Homo sapiens: one gene and its partner. The protein of the gene in region 2 purifies or fractionates together with the protein of the main gene of each other region. This does not show direct contact. Each region holds a gene or a part of one and is shown on either strand. Other genes may lie near its edges.

The links.
Region 1: the proteins of KCNN1 (region 2) and ERLIN2 purify together in Homo sapiens (affinity purification with western blotting; one study listed by BioGRID). This does not show direct contact.

What each region holds. Positions count from the first base shown.
Region 1 is NC_000008.11:37,743,134-37,746,633, reverse strand, and holds part of ERLIN2 (erlin-2), read right to left. Parts: intron 2,280-3,500; coding exon 2,218-2,279; intron 2,064-2,217; coding exon 1,938-2,063; intron 1,066-1,937; coding exon of another isoform or gene 1,031-1,065; exon of another isoform or gene 84-1,030; intron 81-83; exon of another isoform or gene 1-80. UniProt on the Homo sapiens protein: Component of the ERLIN1/ERLIN2 complex which mediates the endoplasmic reticulum-associated degradation (ERAD) of inositol 1,4,5-trisphosphate receptors (IP3Rs) such as ITPR1.
Region 2 is NC_000019.10:17,965,858-17,969,906, reverse strand, and holds the start of KCNN1 (small conductance calcium-activated potassium channel protein 1), read right to left. Parts: upstream 2,801-4,049; 5' UTR 2,758-2,800; coding exon of another isoform or gene 2,590-2,757; intron 1-2,589. UniProt on the Homo sapiens protein: Small conductance calcium-activated potassium channel that mediates the voltage-independent transmembrane transfer of potassium across the cell membrane through a constitutive interaction with calmodulin which binds the intracellular calcium allowing its opening.

The DNA of each region.
Region 1 (3,500 bases), on a different chromosome or scaffold from region 2:
GGCAGCTAGTATTGCTTCCTTGCATGGATACATAGGAGGGATACATTATAGATTAATAAATGATAGTGAGATAAACAAAATGATCTGTTGTGTATCTTTTACTTTACATTTGCTATTTACAGAGGAGTGTTGTATACATAGGTATTATTTTATGTCACACTGCTTCAGTGATAACTATATCCATGTGTTTGTATCCATGTTTTTATCCATTCAACTGTATTAAAAGGTGTTGGGACAGGAAAAAAAGTTGTATTACTAAGTACACACAAAGAGGTTCTTCAGGTAAACTTCAAAGTATTAGATAATACTTTAATAACATGGGCAAAGAGGATGCGGCAGAGTAAGAAGTGATGAAAATTATGCAGCTTCATGTTTAAAGTCTGGGCTATAAGAGTCCTGAGAGAAGGAAAGTATAGAAGAACCTTCTGAGTTGAAGGGCCAGGACTAGAGACATGAGCTCCTCCTTTATGGATATGACAGATTCTAAGCCAAGTAGTGCTTGCTAGCAAGACTGAGATGTAAAAATAAAAAAGTTTCAAAGCAAATATATTTCCCCAGCTCCTCCATACAAGCAGCTGTACTTCACTAAGCTACCAAGTTTAGCTGTAAGAAAGTAAGAAGTTTGCTAATGAAAAACAACTTTGTATTTTAATTTCCTCTTCAGGGACATTAGGGATCCTTTGTCTTTTTTCAGTGCTTTGAAATGTTCATGTAATGTCACAAGTCCTAAGACAATGGCTAGAGAAAATTAATATTTTATAAAATTCTATTAGTTTGAGGTTAAAAAGAAAAATCAACGGCAAATTTACCAACTTTTTCTTAAAAGCACAGTGAATCCAAAACAGATAAAAGACTACAAACCCTATAAAATGAATTTAGATTCATTTTCTACTGCAGAAACATTAAAAGTAATTTGGATGATTTCCTAAATCTTAAATGGTGCAAAAGGCGGTTTGCTTAATTATGATTGCTGGCGATGTGGATGAGTCCTCCTGTCTGCTATGAAAAATGTTCTTGCTCAGGGTCCCTTTTATGAAGATTCCTGGGAAAAATCATTTTCCAGTCCTAGTGTCAAGAACAGTTATACTATTGGTTAAAAATTCATTTACTTTTGGCATTGGCTATTAGAGAATTTCTGGCAGTGAGTTTAAACAGAATACTTGACTGCAAACAAGTTATAACAGTTACCCAACTGTGTCCTTCCTTTGCTGCTAAGTCAGGTTGCCTTTACTTTGAAAAAGGTAAAAAGGACAAAACATATCTACTTAGGCACGTGGAATCTTTTTGTTTAAAGTGTTTTTCTATTCGTTGCTACAGGTACAGAGTAAAAAAATAATAATCACAAAGGTTCTGAGAACTGGAAGGAGCTATGGTTCTCATCTCACTTCTAGAATTAACTATGAATCATGTCTTTTTCATCACCCATTCCTGGGGGCCCTCCATTCAGTGTTGCATGGTGAGAAGAATGCTGAAGAGCCAGGAGAGGAAGGCTCCTGTTTCAGCCCCACTACTAATTGGCATCTGGCTCTGTGACTTTCTTGCTTTGGGTCACAGTACCCTCAGCTTAAAATGAGGATGCTGGTCTGGACAATCTCTAAGGTTCTTCTAGAATGGACCTTGTCTTCATTATAGAATGATAGTTTAGGAACAGTGGGAACACATTTCCACTCCAGCCTCTGATTGAGGCCAGAAGTGAATACTCTACTCCACTATGGTCCCTGTGCCCAAAGCTCCAGCCCTCTAAGGATCTTGTTGCATAGCTATCAGCATTCTCCATGAACTCCTTTGTGACCAGCTCCTGAGCACAAGATTCTTTAACATTTCCTGTCCATAAGTGACCATCACACCCTGCAGGCAGCCAGGCTTTAGGCAGTGGAGAGACGCGGGGTTCCAGGAACCCTGCTTAAGCACGGCATGCTCAGGAGAGACTTTCTTACCAAACAGCTCAATGTAGACCTCTTGAAGCGTGTGCACACTGCAGAACTGGTTCAGTTCGTGGTGGATCTTGTTGAAGATGAGGGCCTTGTCATAGTCAGCAGTATAGTTCTTCACTATATCATACACTGAGAGGGAAGGAGAGGGCTTGGCATAAGAAAAGGCAAGACTCAAAATGCCCTCAGACACGGCAGCTCTCCTTTTCCAAGGTGCTACAACAGACACGGGAGTGGCATGCTGGGGAAAGTGAGCTGGTGGTGGGAATAAACTGTTAAGACGTACCTGCGTTCGGGACCAGGAAGTTCACCACTTCAATTCTGTCAAAGTAGATCATCACACCACCACTATTGGAGGGAGAATGGACAAGAAGTCACTGGGAAGCCTTAGAATATGGTGCAGTCCCCCAGGGTGATGGCGTAAGATGTGGGGCTTGGCAGAAAAGGAGTAGAAGAGTTCACGGGAAGTTGGAAGGCAGCTTGGATCTCCAAGTGGGAGGTTCTGCAGGGCTCATGGCAACAACATACTCTCCTGAGAAATCACACTGCCTAGGAACATCTCTACAAAGACATGAATGAGACTTTTGGGGACCAGTACGAAAGAGTAACTCATATCTTTGGAATCAGCAATGCCTTTTGATTAATCAGTTGCACGGAAAAGACTAAGGAGGGTCAAGGTGAAGTTTTCAGAACTTAGAAGGTTACTGTGGAATGTTATGATCAATGTTTCTTAAACTGTCTTCACTATTACTTTGGTGTCACACTCCCTTTGCCCTCAAATATTTATTATAAAAAGATTTCAAACATAGAGAAGCCGAAAGAGTAGTATAACTAACATCCATATCCAGATACCTGAATTCAACACTGATAACATTTTACCTTATTTATTGACCTTTTTTTTTTCTGAACATTTCAAAGTAAGCTGCAGTTAGGATACTTTACTCCTTTACTTTGGTGAGCACTGTCTTAAGAATAATCATTCTCCTACACACTCATGGTATCATTCCCAAGCCTAAGAAAATTAGCAATAATTCTGTAATATCACCTAATACCCAGTCCTTATTCAGATTTCCCCAACAGTTTGTGTTATGGACTGACCTGTGTATGCCTCGCCCCCAGATTCATATGTTGAAGCCCTAACCCCCAATGTGACTGTATTTGGAGATTAGACCTTTAAGAAGGTAATTAAGGTTAAACAGGTCATAAGGGTGGGCTGTAATCCAAAAGGTCTGGTATCCACCAAAGACCTTTTTCTCTCTTCTTGCACATACAGAGGAAAGGCCTTGTGAGGATGTGACAAAAAGGTGGTCACCTGCAAGCCAGAAAGAGAGGTCTCACCAAAACTACCCCTGCTGTTACCCGGATCTTGGACTTTGGGCCTTCAGAATGGTGAGAAAATATCTATTATTTTAGTCCCTTGGTGTGTAGTCCTCTGTCATGGCAGCCTGAGTGGACTCATATAGTTTCTGTCGTATCTGTTATAGCTGTTAATTTTGAACCAGGTTCTAATCAATGCTCACCCTTGCTTCTGTTTATGTTTCTTGTAAGTCTCTGTCCAATCCAGCATCC
Region 2 (4,049 bases):
AGGTGGGGCTGGGAGCTTGCACTAGGGTGCACACAGGAACCCCAGATCCTGCCCTCCTCCAGGGGGCCCAGGAAAACCCAGGCACCCCTTCCACCATCCCCGAGGGTGCAAAACTTCCCCAGCTGGGGATGGGGGGCACAGGGATGAGAAGCGGGTGGCCTGGCAGACAGAACCCAGAGGGGGTGTAGGCCTCCGATGGCCTCTGCAAACGACCTTCCGAAACGCACCAATGAAGATGCAATTTGGGGATGTGACTCAGCCACCCGACGCATGGGCCAAATTCAGCCGTGTGTCTGCCATGTTCCTCCTCGCCTGGCAGCCGCGTCCTAAGGTGCCCTGGGCAGGGAGGGGGTGGGGAGGAGGAGAGAAATGGCAGGTGGCTTCCAAGAGGGTGGAGGGGTGGAGGGGTGGAGGGCTTTCCCGGCACCCACCACATTACTGTGGACCGGGCTCTTACTATGCTTTGAGCCTGAGATCAGGGTGATCACATTTAATCCCTATCACCACCGGTGAGCAAGGTGGCATTCCCGTTCCCATTTTACAGACGGGAGACAGAGCTCAGAGAAGCTCAGCACCTTTTGCCCAAGGTCACCCAGCCAGGAAAGGCAGGGACTAAATTAGTGCCATCCAGGCGTGGCAGGTGGCAGGGTCTGCTTTCTGGGAGGGGAACTGGCCTGGTCCTGCCGTCGAGAAGCCACTAGCTTGGAGCACAGAACTGATGAGTGCCTGGGCCTTCCCCATTCCTGGGTACACATCCCCTCCCCCACTGCAATCTGGGCCTAACACTGGAGTCCCTGGGACCCTCAGGGATTCCCAGAGACCCAGGAGCCCCTGGGAACCCTCAGCCAAGGTTTGGATGCCCATGAAAGGGTATGTTTTTCTGGGTAACAGCCCTGGGTTTGCCAAGTGAGGAATACCACCCTATTAGCTAGGTATATACCTAGTTCCAGCTATTCAAGAGGCCAAGGCAGGAGATCACTTCAGCCCAGGAGCTCGAGACCAGCCTGGACAACTAGCAATATCCCATCTCTAACAAACAACAAACATCCTACGGGGTGTATTTGGGTTGGAAGGTCTTTGATATTGCCTTACTTTTACTACTCTGTCTGGTCATGAGAGCTCCCTTCCCTGAAGCCTGGGGTGCAGGGGATGAGCAGAGACCCACTTCCACACCCTCCCTGGAGACACACACTTCTGGGGGAACCTCGTGTGCCTGGGGGGACCCATGAGAGCTCTTGAGGAGAGGATGAGGGTAGCAGGGAGCAGGGCTGATGGCTCCTTAGATTCCCCACCCAACAGGACATGGGAAGAGACAGAATCCCAGTCAGGCCCCCAGGGCCCTCCAGCGAGCATTTTTACAAATGACAGGTTGGTTGAGGCAGCCACTGAGAAGGGGCCCTAGGTACCCCTGCCAGGGAGCAAGTTACTGCCCACTCCTTGGCCACCTGCTTTGTAAAGATTCCTCATGGTGCCTCCCCCCCACCCCCCCACTACGAGGGTTGGTGTCCAGAACAGAGTAAGATCTCGCATGGCAAATGCTTTGCAGTCTGTAAGAGCTTCATGCCATTGATTTCTGTTCTTCAGAACTGGACCAAGAGAAGGTGCTCCCTGCCCCTCAATCCCCAAGGCAGACCGCCCCTGCTCCCCAGATGCACACCCAGGGGCTTCCGGGTACCACAACCAGATCAGCACACAGCAGAAACTTCTGGGACATGTGGGCCTGTTGTGGGTCCCCAGCGGGCGCAGCCAGAGTCCGGGTGTCCCTGCTGAGGTTGAGGAAGGTCTCCGAGGATCCCCCTTCCCGCCACCACCCCCACCCCTCCCTTCCCCTCCCCTCCCCCAATAATCACAGGGCCCTAGCTCTGCAGGGCAGACAGACACTGCCTGCCCTCCCGTCCCATGGGCCGCCCAGGAGCCAGTGCAGCAAGGCGCTGGCTACCCGCCCGATCCCCCCATCACCACCCGCCAGGAGCCTGCCAGCAGCCAGCAGGGTGCAATTAGCCTGCTCTCCTGGAGGCTGCCTCCCTCGGGGGCCCTCCATTCTGATGCATCTCCATCAGCCTCACCGCTCAGACCCCAGCCTCGGGAACTCCCATCTGCTGGCCAGCCCTCCAGAACAGCAGGGGCAGTGCCCCGAGCTGGGTCCGGGACTTCTGTCCGGGGAGAGATGGAAGACCCGGTTTCCTGACCCCTCCCTGAGTGCCCCAACCCCTGGATCCAGGGGCCAGTGGTGGGTCACCTCCCTCCCATTCCCAAGTCATTGCGGGTCACTGTCCATCCCTGAGAGCTCCCCGACCTCCAACCCTATCTATGCAGTTTGGAGACTCACAGCTCTGCCCTCCCCCAAAGTGAACCCTGCACCCTCCCCCTCCCAGGATGGGGGTGCGTGGATCCTCACTCACTCGGGCAATGTACATGCATTCATTCCCCCCACCTTTCCTGTGTCTCCTAGGCTCCGGACCGCACGGAGACCCTCCCTCTTGGCCCCTGCCCCAAACCGCGTCCCCCTCCGAGACGTGCCTCCCTCCTCGGGCTCCCTGAGCTGCAGATCCTGGATCCTCCCGCACCCTCACCCATCCCACCCTGTACCTGCGGGGCTCGGCCCGAGCGGGCGGACAAGGCTGGAGGGGAGAGGGTCCCGCGCGGCCGCGGACCCCCAGTCGGGAGCCGGAGCCGGGGTCGCGGACGGGGCGGGCAGCAGCGAGCGGGCGCGGGGCCCGGGGGCGGCGGGGCCGGGGGCGGCGGCGGCAGGCGCATCCCCCGCCGCCCAGTCCACGGGCCCGGCGGGGGGCGAGCGCCCGCCCGGGCCGGGAGAGAAGGGGGCGGTGCGACGCGGGAGCCGCCGCCGATTGGCCGAGCCCGGGTTGGCACCGCCTTCGACGACCCCGCAAGCCCCGCCCATATTTAAAGATCCCACATTCCCCGGCGCCCCCTGCAACCCCCCGGCATGCGGCTGGTCTTCGAACTCCCCCTCTTGCCCCATAAGACGGGAAGGACCTTGGTGAAGCTCCAACCCCCGCCCCCAACAGCCCTCCGGACCTCCTAACTATACCCCCTCCCCAAAATTAGGTCCCAAACTTCAGCCGCTCTGTCAACCTTTGCACGCCTGGGGACTGTCCTCCCCGTAAGCATCAGCTGAAAGACAACTTTGCAAAGCAACTCAATGCCTGCCCCTCAAACGACCTCCTCCGGGGTCTAGCTCTGCATAGGGGAGCCTTGAGGGGGACTAGGGTGATTGCAAGTTGGGGGGTGTCTGGGAGCCAGGTGTAGGGCCTTCCAGGGGTGGGACTGGGTACATGCTGGGGCACTCGGTTAGAGGCCACCTTCTGTGGGAGGAGAGACGCCCGTCTGGATCAGGCCACCCAGTCCTAACCTCCAACACCCATTTCCAGGATGACAGGAAGCCAGAGCCCCAGGGAGTTTGGGATCACCAGGGCTGGGGGTCCCCAAAACTGTGCTCCTTCCCCCAGCACCCAGGCTGAACTTGGCCGACTCATTCATTCAAAGTTAATGGCGGCTCCAGGGAGCTTTGGGGACCAGTGGGTAGGGAGCTCTTCCTTCCTCCTCTTCCAGTCTTACTGCCTCTGCCTCTGCCTCACCCTGTTCCCACCAGGCTTGGGGTGACTGTGTTCAGCTCTGTCCCCCACCAGCCTGGGGGCTTCCTGGAGCCAGCAGATCCCACCTCCTATCTCTCTCCCACACCCTCCATCTGTTTTCTTCCCAGCCCAGAGCTTTGGCCCAGGTCAGGAACATCTGAGTGTTTATTCCTGAGGGAGGCTGTCTTCTGTGTTTCCTCTGCGGAGCTCAGAAAACAGTTGGACTGAAGGAAGGAAGGAAGGAAGGAAGGAAGGAAGGAAGGAAGGAAGGAAGGAAGGAAGGAAGGCAGGCAGGCAGGCAGGCAGGCAGGCAGGCATGAATGAGGGATAGCTGCATGGGCTGAGGGTGGCGGTGAGTCACAGAGGGGCCAGGTGATGGCTCAGAGTCTCAGACAGGACCTTTGTTCCCTCCCCTGGAGAGCCCGTTCCTCATCCCAGCCTGTCCAGACTGCT